Linked DNA regions of Homo sapiens: region 2 is linked to region 1. A link means that fine-mapping ties the variant in region 1 to the expression of a gene that starts in the linked region. Tissue or cell type: whole blood. Region 1 holds a variant in brackets; the other region holds the start of a gene. All regions are shown on one strand. Distances are between the middles of the regions.

What was found. PIP is the estimated chance that this variant, and not a neighbour inherited with it, causes the effect.
Region 2: it holds the start of OSCP1, and the variant in region 1 is fine-mapped to the expression of OSCP1 in whole blood (TOPMed, PIP above 0.99). The same link has a PIP of 0.9 or more in sun-exposed skin.

The regions. Positions count from the first base shown.
Region 1 is chr1:36,409,329-36,417,430 of GRCh38, reverse strand. No RefSeq gene overlaps it. Among named protein-coding and RNA genes, the nearest start is that of SNORA63C, 5.2 kb to the left of the region's middle. The variant A/G (reference allele first, on the strand shown) is at 3,800.
Region 2 is chr1:36,446,483-36,454,584 of GRCh38, reverse strand. OSCP1 (organic solute carrier partner 1) reads left to right here and starts at 4,134. Exons shown (of 10, transcript NM_145047.5): 1 at 4,134-4,327. The coding sequence starts at 4,216. LOC107984940 (a long non-coding RNA gene) reads right to left here. Exons shown (of 3, transcript XR_001737976.2): 3 at 5,020-5,127. RefSeq lists a silencer at 3,739-4,008 and an enhancer at 7,923-8,102.

The DNA of each region.
Region 1 (8,102 bases):
GGTCTTCCTCTACCCCTGAGTGTGCTTTGCCTTCTAAAGACACCCAGCATAGGCCGGGCACAGTGGCTCAGGCCTATAATCCCAGCACTTTGGAAGGCTGAGGTGGGCGGATCACGAGATCAGAAGATCGAGACCATCCTGGCTAACACAGTGAAACCCCATCTCTACTAAAAATACAAAAAAAATTAGTTGGGTATGGTGGCAGATGCCTGTAGTCTCAGCTACTCTGGAGGCTGAGGCAGGAGAATAGCATGAACCTGGTAGGCAGAGCTTCCAGTGAGCCTAGATCGCGCCACTGCACTCCAGCCTGGGTGACAGAGCGAGATTATGTCTCAAAAAAAAAAAAGATACCCGGCAGGATGCACTGTGACATCGGTCTCCTCTGCATCACCGTGAGTCACCAAACAGCACCCTAGATTGGGTGCATGGGAGGCACGTGTGGTATGCACCTTTCCCTTCTGCATTCTAGCTGAGCCGCTTCCCTGGGCGGGAGCAGACTTTGCAGGATGCAGCAGGAGGCCAAGTCTCACTGGAATCCATGTAAAATGTCTCCAGCCAGGGCTGCCCTTACTGCTTCAGAAAGGCGCAGCAGCCCTCTGCCATAGGCTCCTTCCCAGGACTGAGTAACTGGCAGGTTCAGACCCATTCAATCCTATGGAAGGAATATCCAGAATGGCAGAGGGCTGGAGAGAAACTAAGTTGAGCTGGACATTGCCTGAGATTGGGCCAACTACAGGAACCTCTCCATCCCCTCACACCTGGGACGGACCAAGGTGAACATCATTCTAGAATGTAATGGAAGCTGCCCTTTGGCTTTTCCAAAGGCAAAGGGTTTAGATACAGAATGTAAATCACCAAGGGCTGGGCATGGTGGCTCATGCCTGTAATCCCCAGCACTTTGGGAGGCCGAGGCGGGCAGATCAGTTGAGGTCAGGAGTTCGAGACCAGCCTGACCAACATAGAGAAACCCTGTCTCTACTAAAAATACAAAATTAGCCAGGCCTGGTAGCGCATGCCTGTAATCCCAGCTACTCAGGAGGCTGAGGCAGGAGAATCGCTTGAACCCAGGAGGTAGAGGTTGCAGTGAGCCAAGATCATGCCATTGCACTCCAGCCTGGGCAACAAGAGCGAAACTCTGTCTCAATTAAAAAAAAAAAAAAGAATATAAATCACCAAATAAATGTTAATTGCTCCCTACCCATTAAAGTTACACTTCCTTACCTATAAAGACACCCTCCCCCTCCACATACTCACGAAAAGTCTGTTGGGGAGGAGAAGCATATTGTGCTATAAAACACCTGTTGCATCAGATGTACAAAGTGCCTTTCGTTTTAGTCTCTTTTCAGCAATCTGGCCACCATTCAGGGGGGCCTGACTGGGTGACAGATGAATGGGAAGGTTCTGACCTGTTTTGAGTCCGGCTCCCACCTTGCTGTCACATATCAGAATGTCACTGCTCTGAGTGTGTCCCAGGGCCTTGGAGGTGGGCCGTGAGGTGCCGAGAAGCAGCCGCAGCCTCCTCCCTCCACCTATCCCAGAGCGATGCTGGTGATTTCAAACGTATCTGTCCTATCAGTAAATAAACAAGATGCAGATCTCTGGTATGACAGCTCCATGATGAGGCAATCTGTGAGTTTCATGTCTCTAGACTTGCACAGATATTAAGAAAAACAAGTTTATGGCCGGGCACAGTGACTGACGCCTGTAATCCCAGCACTTCGGGAGGCCGAGGTGGGCGGATCACAAGGTCAGGAGATCGAGACCATCTGGCTAACGCGGTGAAACCCCGTCTCTACTACAAATACAAAAAATTAGCTGGGTGTGGTGGCGGGTGCCTGTAGTCCCAGCTACTCAGGAGACTGAGGCAGGAGAATGGCGTGAACCTGGGAGGCGGAGCTTGCAGTGAGCCGAGATCGCGCCACTGCACTCCAGCCTAGGCGACAGAGCAAGACTCCGTCTCAAAAAAAAAAAAAGAAAAACAAGTTTATTTGCATGGTGGTTCAGGACTTCCAGAGAAAGCATGGGAGTCAGTAGGAGGTAAAGTAGATAAAAAGTAGGAGGTCGAGGCTGCAGTGAGCCATGACTGTGCCACTGTACTCTAGCCTGGGTGACAGAATGAGACCCCATCTCAATAAAAATAAATAAAGATTCTAAAAAGATTTTATTTTCTGCCTAAAATGTGGACAAAGTACTAAAAGCACACATATTCATTTAAAACCATGGCAAAGGGGCATAAGCATGTAATCCACCAATGCCCAGTGAACTTAAGGGGAAGGCATATGGTCAGAATCACAACACTGCACTCTGGCCCCATCCCCGCCCCCAATTCACCATGTCATCTTAGACCACTAACCCTCACCAAGCCTCGGGTCCCTCATCTATTAAAAAAGAAAAAGAATTCAAACTCAGCTTGCACAGATAAGTTCCTGAGTTTATAGCTTCCTGGGCCCTGCCCCAGGTGGGACCTGAGAATGGGAGTCTTACCCAGGCTGCCCTCCCCCCGCTGCTTTGGGGTATATCTGCTCTCTTTCAGCTCTTCTGTGACTGTAGCCTCTTCTCAACTAAGTTTCAAACCACCCCACTCTTGTTCTTAGGGTGTTAGAATGCCCTGTTGATTAAGTAAAGCAATGCTGCAGAAAAGCCAAAAACCAAAGGACTTTAATGGCTCCCAGAAGAAAGAAGTAATAAAAATCCAGAGCAAAGGAGGAAGAAAAAAGAAGGAAAATGTATTTATCTCTGAATTCTAAGAAGAAAGTCATCCCATTGTTCCCGAAACACCAGGCGTTTGGTCTAGGTCCTGCTGCTCACCGCACAGAAAGCCAATCTCTGAGATAAGTATTTTCAAGGAAGAAGGCTTTAATCAGGTGCTGCAGAGAAGATGGGAGCTCAGTCTCAAATCCATCTCCCTGATCGACTAAAGCTAGGGGTTTACATAGCAAGGAAGAAATGTAACAATGTGTAACAAAATAAGAACTAGGGAGGGGCAAGGGGGCATCTGGTGCCCCCATCTGGTAAGTTTCAGTTCTCTGATCCCATTTTTTAGGGGCCTGAAGGTCCTTTCCTGAGAAAGGAACTTAGATAAAACAAATACAAGTTTCAAGCTTTAACAGCAGAAGGATCAATGTCTACGTTTATCCAAAAGAACAGTCTATGGGCCCATTTCACCATGTAGTCCCCGTGAGTATCTAACAATTTTTATTTATTTTTGAAACAAGGTCTCATTCTGTCACCCAGGCTGGAGTGTAGTGGCACAATCACAGCTCCCTGCAGCCTCGACCTCCTCAAGCGATCCTCCCACTTCAGCCTCCCAAGTAGCTGGGACTACAGGCACGTGCCATCACACCTGGTCTCACTATGTTGCCCACGCTGATCTCAAACTCCTGGTCTCAAGCGATTCTCCTGCCTCAGCCTCCAAAGGTGCTGGGATTACAGGCGTGAGCCACCACGCCCAGCCTTCTAACAATTTTTTGTTTTTAGACAGAGTCTTGCTGTGTCGCCCAGGATGGAGTGCAGTGGCACAATCTCAGCTCACTGCAACCTCCACCTCCTGGGTTTAAGCAATTCTCCTGCCTCAGCCTCCCAAGTAGCTGAGATTACAGGCATGCACCACCATGCCTGGCTAATTTTTGTATTTTCTTAGTAGATATAGGGTTTTGTCATGTTGGCCAGGCTGGTCTCGAACTCCTGACCTCAGGTGATCCACCTGCCTCGGCCTCCCAAAGTGCTGGGATTACAGGCGTCAGCAACTGCACCCAGCCCTTCTAAGAATTTTTAAATTCTTCCCTCAGATATCCCAATA[A/G]GAGAGAAACAGGCTTCAGCATAACCAGATCCTGGAGATGCCCAGATCTAAAGTGGATCAGATTCCCTCATCCACATCCATCTAGTCTATAACCATCTGGTCTGTCACTCTGGATTACATTCAGTATAGAGCCACACTGTCCATTTTGGAACCATCTCAAGCTACAGGAAACCATAGAAAGAGAAATGCAAATTTTAGAAAATATGTATTTAGCATAATACCTAATCTTAAAGACCAAAATTAAAATCAGAAAACTAATACTACCTCTACCTACCTCTTATTCTCTCCAAATTATGCCTTGGATAACTCCTTTTCAGCTGCTAAATTCCTGGACAGGTGACAGTAGAGAGAATTACAGGACAGGCTTGGGATAAGGAAACCTCCACATTGAATCTTCCCTGCATAGCTTCCTGATTTGGTGTGAAGTAAATTCTCAGATCATAACTTACCCCTTTGCAAGTGAGAATGTCAAGATTCATTCCAAGGGTCAATGGAAATTGTTTTTGATTATTTGATTACCTTAACACTTCACCACCACCACCTCCATACATGTGTACATTCTAGATTCTTTTTGTTTCTGGCCAGTGGTGCCTCTGCTGACAAAAATAACATTACCTTCTCTGTTAGTTCCTAAGACAGCATGAAAACTCAACTGCATGGCCAGGTGTGGTGGCTCACGCCTGTAATCCCAGCACTTTGAGAGGCCAAGGCAGGTGGATCACCTGAGGTCAGGAGTTCGAGACCAGCGTGGCCAACATGGTGAAACTCTGTCTCTACTAAAAATACAAAAATCAGCCAGGTGTGATGGAACATGCCTATAATCCTAGCTACTTGGGAAGCGGAGGCTTAGGCAGGAGAATCGCTTGAACCCGGGAGGCAGAGTTTGCAGTGAGCTGAGATGGTACCACTACACTCCAGCCTGGGGGACAGAGCGAGACTCTGTCTCAAAAAAAAAAAAAAAAAAAACCTCAATTGCATTAGGCCCGATGGAGCCACACACCACCAGCAGTGCCAGCAGTGCCAGCAGTGCCAGCAGTGCAAGAGGCAGGCCGCAGGGCCTAGATGTGCACAATCACCTCAGATCACTGTGTCCTTCATTTTCTTTATAGAGCTCCCTCACTTCCTTTTGAAACACTGAGGCCAGCAGGTTTCCCAGCAGGGGGCCCCGTGTCAGCAAAGGACATTTGACCCCAGTTTTCTAGATATCCTCAAGACCTCTCAGCTTAGGTTACAACTGACAAGAAGCTAATATTTGTTTTATATTGATTAATATTGCATGTGTCCCTCATCTTTCCTCCCTACCTCAAGTATATTCTGCTTCAGGTGTTTATCTGAGTGGCTGCTAAGGCTCTCCTCCTCCTGTACAAACGTGCCCAGCTGAGGCAGGAGGCAGGAGACAAGAACCTAAGGCCAATTTGCGCTGCCTTCCTAGAACTGAATCAAAACGAAAACCCCACCTCTCCACGCCCAAGTAAGGAAAGGATCAGAAGCTACTCCCTTTGCAACCCCCCCTTTCCACTGCCTCACAGATGAAAAATGGAAAGTACCTCTGATTGGTCCCCTCCCACAACCAATCTGACTGGTCGTGGGGCAGGTTTCATTTACATAGGGTGTAACCAAGTAACCAATGGGAAACCTCTAGAGCATATTTAAACCCCAGAAAATTCTGTAACCAGGGCTCTTGCTGCTTGCTCGAGCCTACTCCCACTCTGTGGAGTGTACTTTTGTTTCAATAAATCTGTACTTCTGTTTTGCTTCTTCTCTCGTTGCTTTCTTTGTGCATTTTGTCCAATTCTTTGTTCAAAATGCCAAGAACCTGGACAATTCAGTCAGGTTACCTCAACCTGTTACCCTCAACCAGTACTGGTTACCCTCAACTGGTAACACAGGTACTCCTTCGGCCCCTACTTCTCCAGGGGCTGCTTCTCTCCATCTTCATTGTTCTAGCCATTCTCCTCTGTTCCTCACCACGTACTCATCAGCTTCTCGGCTATGGGGCCAGCACTGCACTGCACAGATCTCAACTCTCAGGTCTCCAGGTGCCAACATTGCTATTAATAGATCCAATAGCCTTTTCTCATCACCATGCTCCTTGGCTTTTTGGTTTTCTGTTTTGTTTTTGAAACAGGGTCTCACTCTGTTGCTCAGGCTGGAGTGCAATGGCACAATCATAGCTCACTGAGCCTCCAAACTCCTGGGCTCAAGTGATCCTCCCGCCTAGGCCTTCCAAAGTGCTGGGATTATAGGCATAAGTCACCACGCTTGGCTTCTTGGCTTTTTGAAAGCTCTTGGCCCTGCTAAACACCCTTTTCTTCCTAAAACTCTCTCAACCGTTCACCTCTGTGGCTCTAATCACAACACTTTCTTTTTTTTTTTTTTTTTTTTGAGAAGCAGTCTCACTCTGTCGCCCAGGCTGGAGTGCAGTGGCGCGATCTCGGCTCACTGCAAGCTCCACCTCCCAGGTTCACGCCATTCTCCTGCCTCAGCCTCCTGAGTAGCTGGGACTACAGGCGCCCGCCACCACACCCGGCTGATTTTTTGTATTTTTAGTAGAGAGGGGGTTTCACCGTGTTAATCTGGATGGTCTCAATCTCCTGACCTCGTGATCCACCTGCCTCGGCCTCCCAAAGTGCTGGGATTACAGGCGTGAGCCACTGCGCCCGGTCTAATCACATCACTTTCTGACCATACATCCTCTCTCTCCCTCAGTGCCTTCTGATTGAGGACTGCTCTGTATGATACAGAGTTCAACACAGCCATTTTATAAAGTCTGTCAAAATAGCCAAGTCAATGGCAGAGGATCATTATTTCATCCTTGGCTGTCTTTCCCATTCCTTTCCCACTCCTTCGCCTTACCTCTCACTCTCACTCCATTTCTCATCCTCAGCCTATTCCTTATTCTCATCCCATTGCTGATCCCAATGTCTGATGTGCCCGGCAGGGTTTACACCCCTTCTGAGAGTTATTCTGCATCACTTATTTTTCAAAAATGTCACTACCTTCAACCCTTAACCTCTGTGTTGTCATCCCATGCCCACCTGTGCTGCAGGCTCTCTTTCCATGGATGGTCCACATCACCTCACACTCCGGTGTCTGAAAATGCAGTCATTTTCATTGATTTAGTACATTTACTTCACTTTCAAAAGGCATGAAGAGGTCAGGCATGGTGGTTCATGCCTGGAATCCCAGCACTTTGGGAGGCTGAAGCAGGCGGATCACCTGAGGTCAGGAGTTCAAGACCAGCCTAGCCAACATGATGAAACCCCATCTCTACTAAAAACACAAAAATTAGCCAAGTGTGGTGGCATACACCTGTAATCCCAGCTACTGGGGAGGCTGAGGCAGGAGGATTGCTTGAACCCAGGAAGTGGAGGTTGCAGTAAGCCAAGATTGTGCCACTGCACTGTAGCCTGGGTGACAGAATGAGACTCCATCTCAAAAAAAAAAAAAAAAAAAAAAAAAAAAAAAACCTTGAAAATTTATTAATTAAATATAATACAAAATAGGACAGTTTTCCATAGAAAAGAACTAGAAGCAGCTGCCAGAATAAGTGTCTTTCTCCCTTCTTAGAACAACAAAAAAAATGACAATGCTCACATTTGACATTTGTGCATTGGATTCCCTTCTGAATGAATAAAAAGGAAAGTGTTTGATATAATTCCTGATGGGTGTGTGTTGTTTTTCATGCCACCGTTTGTCATTGTGGTTTCCCATTTTACTGTCATAACTGGACAGACATTTTTGTAAATTCAATAAAAATACAAAAAAAAAAAAGGTTTTAAAAAACTGGAAGCACATGGGTAGAAGTTACCAAAAGCTTCCTGACCGTGAAGTAGATCAGCTGGCAAAGAAGCGAGTTGCTGTCACTGGAGTGGTTCAGATAGAGGTTAGGGGGGAGCATCACAGAATGTCATAAAGGGTATGTTGGTACTGGGTGGTAAATTGGAGCAGGTGACCTGGGAGTCGACCCTAACTCTCAGGATTTTGTGATCCTCTGACAATTGGAAACAGAACCACAACAGAGCTCACCTAAAGAGAACAGAGAGGCTGGGCACGGTTGTTCATGCCTGTAATCCCAGCACTTTGGGAGGCTGAGGTGGGTGGATCACGAGTTCAGGAGTTCAAGACCAGTCTGGCCAAGATGGTGAAACTCCATCTCTACTAAAAATACAAAATTAGCCAGGCACAGTGGCGGGTGCTTGTAATCCCAGCTACTCGGGAGGCTGAGGCAGGAGAATTGCTTAAACCCAGAAGGCAGAGGTTTCAGTGAGCCGAGATCGTGCCACTACACTCCAGCCTGGGC
Region 2 (8,102 bases), 37 kb before region 1:
GACCTTATGTAACCCTAGTTAACTCTGAGAAGCCCCATCTCTAAATACTGTAACATTGGAGTTAGGGCTTCGACATATGAATTTGGTCGGGGACACATTCGGCCCATAACACTGGAGAAATACACTGGACTTCACTCTGGGAAGGGAAGCCACTGAGGAAAGCCAAAAAGGGAGAAAGGTGTGCTAAAGTGCTATCCAAAGAGCAGTTGGAAGTTTAGATCTAGGACTCAGTAGAGAGGTCTGGACTAGAGAGGTTTGCGAGTTGTTGGGTGATTGAGCCCATGGGCATAAGTGAAACTGCCCAGGGATGGAGTGTATAAGAAAAAAGGACCATGTCTGGATGGGAAGGATGATCCCTGAGAGCTTAGCCTAAGTCAGAAGGAGCAGCTGAGCTGGAGGAGAAGGTGAAGTAGGGGTAGAACAGAGCCTGGGTGTCTGCAGAAGCAGAAATGAGAGGCTCAGAACTGAAGATCCACTATTCAGATATCACTTCCAGGAATTGTAGGGAAGGCCTTTAATGGGCCAGGACTTCCAAGTGGCCACGGCTACTTAGAGGTAGTGTGTCAGAGGGCCAGGTACTAACAGTTAAGGGGGCTAGCCAAGGGGAAGGAAAGAAAAAGGAACACATTTTAATGGATCAGGCCCTACTGCAAAGGCATTTGTGTGTTTTTCGTTGGTTGGTTGGTTGGTTTGGCTGGTTGTTTTTTTAGAGACAGGATCTTGCTCTGTTGCCCCAACTGGAGTGCAGTAGCCTGATCATAATTCACTAACTTCAAATTCTTGGGCTCAAGCAATCCTCTTGCCTCTGCCTCCTAAGTAGCTAGGACTATAAGTGTAAGCCACTGCGCTTAGCTAATTTTTTTATTTTTTGTAGAGAGGGTCTCACTATGTTGCCCAGGTTACTCAAACTCTTGGCCTCAAGCAATCCTTGCCCTCCCAAATGCCTTGGTTTCCCAGAGTGCTGGGATTACAGGCGCGAGCAACTGCATCCGGTCAAAAGGCATTGTTTTAACTGCTTCCTTAGGCACATTATCTAATATTCACAGCCACCTTTACTCTGCACATTGGCTAATTATCCTCATTTTAGCCATGAGAGATGAGAGAGTCATGAGAGAACTGAGACTCAGAGAGGTTAGGTAACTTGTCCAAATTCATATAGCTGGGAAGAGAAAGGTCTAGGATTCAAAGCTGGCTCTGTCTTGACTCCAGAGCCTATGTCCTGTTCACTATACCACACTGCTTAGGGACCAAGAAAAAGGTCTGAGAAGCTAAGGGAAGAGTACACTACAGCAAACTCAAATGCTTTTGGGAGCAAGGCAGGTAACAAAAATGCATGAAGGCCTAACATGAAGTAATGATGCTAAGGTGTTTATTACATTCCTATCCTAGTTGTATTCCCTCTTATTTATTTATTTTAATTTTTTTGAGACAGAGTTTTTGCTCTGTCCCCCAGGCTAGAGTGCAGTGGTGTGATCTTGGCTCACTGCAACCTCCCCGTCCCAGGTTCAAGCGATTCTCCTGCCTCAGCGTCCACAGTAGCTGGGATTACAGGTGTGTGCCACCACACCCAGCGAAGTAGAGATGGGGTTTCACCATGTTGGCCAGGCTGGTGTTGAACTCCTGTCTTGAACTCCTGACCTCAAGTGATCTGCTGGCCTTGGCCTCCCAAAGTGCAGGGATTACAGGTGTGAGCCACTGCGCCTGGCCTGTATTCCCTTTTAAAACAGAGCACAGAGCAGGCAAAATAACCAAATTAAACAAAGCCTTGGGCTGCCAGCCATGGGATACTGTATAGTCCTGATGCTGAGATATCAGTTAAGGGAAGGACCAAAAAGTATTCATGGTGAAGCAGTTTCAGTGGGGTTCAGGGAGCATAATACCAGTTGCAATGAGGTGGGGAGTGAGGATGTTAAGGAGGTTCCAGTTGTGAGTGTTGTCAACTCGTTCAAAACACTTCACTGGGAAGGAAAGGAAGGAAAACAGACTAGCAGGGATGGAAGGAGAATGTTAATATGGGAAGGACTTGGGCTCAGTTATGGCAGGACAAGACTTTTCAGTGGTGTGGTAATGAGGAAGAGGCAGCCTGCTGACAAGTTCAACTGGACTGGGGGAGAGGAGGTGGCCAGGTGCAGGAGATGGCTTTAAAAAGGTAGTTGGCCGGGTATGGTGGCTCTCACCTGAAATCCCAACAACTAAGGAGTCTGAGGTGGAAGAATCACTTGAGGCTAGGAGTTCTAGGCTGCAGTGAGCCACCAGGGTGCCACTGCATTCCAACCTTGGGCAACAAAGTAAGACCCCTATCTCTTTAAAAAAAAAAAAAAAAAAAAGGTAGCTGGAGCCTGTGGAGAGCCTGGAATGCCATGCCAAGGCATCTAGACTGTGATCTGGCAAAGAGTAGGAAACCACTGAAGGGATGTGTCATGTTGACAGTGATGCTGGCCGGGCGCAGTGGCTCATGCCTGTAATCCCAACACTTTGGGAGGCCGAGGCGGGCAGATCACCTGAGGTCAGGAGTTCGAGACCAGCCTGGCCAACATGGTGAAACCCCATCTCTACTAAAAATACAAAATTAGCCGGGCATGGTGCCCTGGTCCATGCCTGTAATCCCAGCTTACTCAGGAGGCTGAGGCAGAAGAATCGCTTGAAACCAGGAGGCGGAGGTTGCAGTAAGCCGAGATCGTGCCATTGCACACCAGCCTGCGCGACAAGAGTGAAACTCCATCTCAAAAAAAAAAAAGTGATGTCTTCTGACATTTAGCTTAGCAGCCAGTGCAAGGTAGAAGAGAGAAAAGAACAGTGATACAGAGGAACATAGCAATGCAGACAGAAAAACAAATGAAGGGATGAATGTAAGAAAGGTGTTGGAGGAAAAAGCATAATATGATGACTGATAAAAGACCCTGGGAAACAGATTTGGAAGCCAAGGCCCAAGTTTCAAGTTTGAGTAGCTGGAGGGAAAGATAATTAGTAGGTTTTGGAAGTACTGAAATTTACAGAAATGGTTGTTCATCAGAGTAAAAATATACAGCAGATGGCAAAAAGTAATCCTGGAGCTTAAGATGGAGGTAAGGAAGGGAGTCGCTGCCCTCAAAGAGAAATGGTTGGGGCCGGGCGTGATAGCTCACGCCTGTAATCTCAGCACTTTGGGAGGCCCAGGCGGGCAGATCACCTGAGGTCAGGAGTTCCAGACCAGCCTGGCCAACATGGTGAAACCCCGTCTCTACTAAAAATACAAAAATTAGCCGGGCATGGTGGCGGGCGCCTGTAATCCCAGCTACTCGGGAGGCTGAGGCAGGAGAATCGCTTGAACCCTGAAGGCGGAAGTTGCAATGAGCCGAGATGGCGCCACTGCACTCCAGCCTGAGCGACAAGGGCAAAATCCGTCTCAAAAAAAAAAAAAAAAGAAAAAAGAAATGGTTGGGAGGCCTTCGGAACAGCGTCGAGGAGGGAACTTCCCAGAGCCCCCAGGCGCATCCTCTGGGAACTGGACACACGGGGACGGACGGGACTGGTTTGCTTCATGGAGTATGAAACCAGGAGGGGCTTCACTTCAAGTAAACTTTTGGGAGGCGATGCAAACGACTCAGGACTTCTGATCCTTCCCTCGTCTAAAAGAAAAGTCAGTTACCATTTTTATTGAGTGCTTTCGGGGCCTTTCCATGATCTGACTGATTCCTCTCAGCCGCCCTGTGATGTGAGTGCCAGCTCCATGTTACGTAAGAGGAAGCCAAGGCTCAAACCCTGCCCGAAGTCACACAGCAAGAAATCACGAGCCGTGATTCCAACCCAGGTCCGTCTGACCCGAGCCTGCTCTAATGCCGTTCTGCCTGGGCTTTCCTCTGTTATAGGAACCTGAGGCCCCGCGCCAGCGGCCGGGGTCCCAAGCGCCGGGCTGGCTGTGTCGAGACCACCCCCAGCCCTGGCCCGGCCCTCGCCCTTTCGAGGGAAACCTACTCTCAGAAGCACAGCTCCCCAGCCGCGCCCAACGCCGCGCCGGCCTCTGGCTCGGACCAATCCCCCCGGGACGGTCCACCACCCAGACCAATTAGCTCCCGTCTTCAGGGCACCTCCCACCAAACCGCCTTCTGATTGGCTCGCTCTTCCCGTCACGGCGTTGCCCCAGCAACCGGACTATTGGGACGCTGCGGCCTGGCCTTCAGGCCACTGGCTACCGAACCCCGGGGCTCTTCACCAGTCCAGCTCGTTTCCAGCACCATGTCGGTGCGGACGCTACCGCTGCTCTTCTTGAACTTGGGCGGGGAGATGCTTTACATCCTCGACCAACGGCTGCGGGCCCAGAACATCCCGGGAGACAAGGCCCGCAAAGGTGAGAGGCCCCCGGCCCGCTCAGCCAGACCCGCAGCCAGCAGCCCGGCCCTCTCATCATCGCCCTAACACCCACAGCCAGACCCGCACCCCTACACACTTCACTCTTATAACCAGGGACCTTTCTTACAAGCCACATCCATTTGGAGCCCCTCGGGAGTCAAATCCCCCCAAAAGCTTTTTTCACAGCAGAGGAACTTAATACTCCCAGTGGACACTAGGGTGCCTGACCTCCCTAATTTCCCCATCTCTTCAAATGGGAGAGGTGATTTCCCAGTCTCTCTTGTCAATCAGTGCCTTCCAAATGTAGGAGTCCCAGCTGCCCACCATCTAGTATCATACCCCTTGCTAGTCCAAGCATCCTCTTTACCCCCAAGGAACAGGTTCTGATTTTTTTTTTTTTTTTTTTTTTTTTTTTTTTTTGAGACAGGGTCTCGCTCTGTCGCCCAGGCTGGAGTGTGTGGCACGATCTCGGCTCACTGCAACCTCTGCCTCCTGGGTTCCAGCGATTCTCGTGCCTCAGCCTCCCAAGTAGCTGGGATTACAGGCATGCACCACCACACCCAGCTAATTTTTGTATTTTTAGTAGAGATGGGGTTTCACCATGTTTCCCAGGCTGGTCTTCAATTCCTGGACTCAAACGATCTGCCCCCCTCGGCCTCCCAAAGTGCTGGGATTATAGGCGTGAGCCACCGCGTCCAGCCCAGGTTCAGATTCTTAATTTCTTTATGGTAGTATCTTCCCACATAAGCTGGAGATTGGTCTTACTCATCTCAGAAGTATTTCTAGAAATTTGGTGTTCTAAAATAATATAGATAAATATGAAAAAAATAAGAAAGTTATAAATCTCCTCACAAGTGTTGGAGGGGAATACAATTGTGAAAATAATTATATGAGAGCTTCGAAAATGCAAAATCTGCCTCCCATGGACACCACACTAATCCCCAGAAAAATGACGACTCAGAACACTCTGCCACTCTGTTCCTTTTCCTCTTTTCCTCCCTTCTCGGCAAACAACTTGCTTATACCAAATTTCCTAGGATTAAGTATGAAGGAAATATTATATTTCAAAGTGGAGGAGGAAAAGTTGAAAAGGCAATTGACATGGCCGCCAATTAAAACATTCTCTCCATTAATCTTTGTATGCTCAATTGATGTTCAACATACATATTCAGATGCTAAGCATACATATTCAGATATTAACTATTGTGTGTGTGTGACTGAGTGCAAGTCCATGCATAAAGAGCTAAAAATAACTCCCTATAACATACCCCCTCCATTCATTCTGCACATTGCCGCCAATGAGCTTTCTAAAATGTGTATCTGTCCAAACTTGCCCCTGCCTAAAACCCTTTGTCAGCTTTCCACTGCCATCTGGGTTAAGACCAAGTCCTTGCACAGGCCATTTCAGGGCCCTTCCTTATCTGATCTCTGTCTTCCTCTGCAGTCCCTTCTTCCACCACTGCCTGCCTCCTGTTTCCCAATAATACCAAACTGCTCATAGATCTCCGCTTAAACCATGTTTGTTCGTATTTCTGTGCTAGTAATTCCCATCCCTACATTCTTCCCCTTCAATCCTGCATTATTCGGCTTAAGAATCATCTCCTTCAGGAATCCTCCCCATATGCAGAAAGGGCCTGTGCATGCTCTCATAGCAGCCTGTGCTCCCATAGCACCCCATGCCTGCTCCTCAGTACCTTACCACTGGCCATGCTATACTGAAATGATCTGTGTATATGTCTATCTCCCGCTTGATTGTCTTATTCATCTTTGTACTCCAGCACCTACCATAATTCCTAGACCAGAATAAATTAGTGATCACAAAATGTTTTTTGAACTGATTATCTAAATTGGCAGTTTTATATAGCATTGTCATTTTTCCTTTGAGAGGGTTCTGTTTTCCTTGGTGCCTGTGTGATCTGATTTCATTCAGGCTAGTGGCACCAATGAGGTGACATGCTGGAGTCCTCAGACTGGTAGGTAGTCTGCATCTTGGAAGATAGTGTAAATTAGCAATTAAGAACATACTCTCTAGAGTCTTACAGACCTGGATCCCAATTCCAGCTTTACCATTTAACTAATTGCATGCCCTTTGGGTGTAACCTCTATAAACCTGTTTCTCCATAAAATGGTAATAATACATATATGTTAAAGCAAAGTTGTAAGGATTGAATGAAATAATGTATTTAATATGTTTAACACAATGAGTAATAGGTATCTTTCAAGAGGAGGTCTGGACAAGGCCCTTGGAATACTAGAGGACAGCTTTACCTTTAGGAGTTATAGCCTTTTTTCTGCTTTTGCTAAATATGGTTTTGGGAGTTTCGGCCATCTTTAGTAATTTACATTCGCACACTCATTCATTCCACAGATTTTGACTGAGTGTCAAACACTATGTGAGATACTATATGGAGCCTGATGCAGCCCTTCTGGACATTCACTGGAGGTAGGGCTATTGATCAGTCCACTCCAGTAACTGATTCTAGTGACAGCAATCAACAATAAAACAATGAAAAATCAAGCACTTACTTTGTACCAAGGGCTCCTCTTAAACACCTTAATCCTCCCAACTATTGTAACACATAGGTAATATTACTATCCCCATTTTACAGATGGAGAAACTAAGACTAATTTGCCCAGAGTTACATGGCTGGTAGGAGGAAAAGTAAAGGATTTGAGCCCAAGGCATCAGGCTCCAAAGTTCATACTCAGCCAATGTCCCCTTACTATAACCAATGTCCCCTCATATAACCAATGTCCTCATACTCAGCCAATGTCCCCTTACTATAACCACTTAGTCCCCTTACTATAACCACTATACTCTGCTGCCATACCTTGGGGACTATATCAGAATCTTAGTGGGGGTTGGTAGGTCAGGAGGAGAGGGAGGAGTCTGAAAAATATATATCCAATATACCCACTGATTTTATCAAATAAATGACAAAATAGTTGGCTGTTGGAGATCTGTAGAAGATAGAGTGAGAAAACAGGGTAGAGAGCATAGGATTCAACGGGCTGAGAAATACTCATGTCTTCCACCTATTCCACCATTTAAAGTTGTTGTGGCCACAGGAGCGAGAGCCCCTGTAACAGATCCCTGTACACAGGAGCCTATAAAACACTAGACTTGGTAAACTAGTCCTCTTCGAAGCTTTGAGTGGAAATCATATTTCTTCTAGATGTTTTCATTATCTTATACGACTAATTGGTCTCCTGGAGGCCATCCCTGTTCCCACAAGGCCAAGGCAGATGTTGCAGCTTCCCCCACAACGCAGCCTCTAGTTTAGCATTCAACAGAAAGGAAGTGCTCTCTCTATGAGGCAACTATCGAGTGTTGCATATTGAATGTTGTCTCCTGTTTAAAGCAATGGCGAGAATAATAAAAGCTACCTTTGCCTCTTAAAAATATTTATAAATAAGACCTTATTATCTTTTGCTTACATTCCTCATTTTACAGGAGAGGAAACTGAGGCATGTGGCCACAAAGTGATTTTTCCAAGACATGCCAATCACAGTGTAGCACAAGCAACCAAAGGGCAGTGAGACTCTGGTTTTATTTTTCTAGTTCCAGTTTAACGACTAGCTCTGAATAGCCTTGGGCCTGCCCCCACTCAAAACAGAACTAAAGTGGAGTTGTCACAAATAAGTCATCTGGAGAAATAATAGAAAAAGAGGGTGTTTCTCTTCCCTGTATTCTCAGGAGGAAAGGAGTAGGGGAGCACACAGCACTACAGAGACCCCTGCTGGCGTTCAGCCTGCCTGCCTTCGGGAGCATC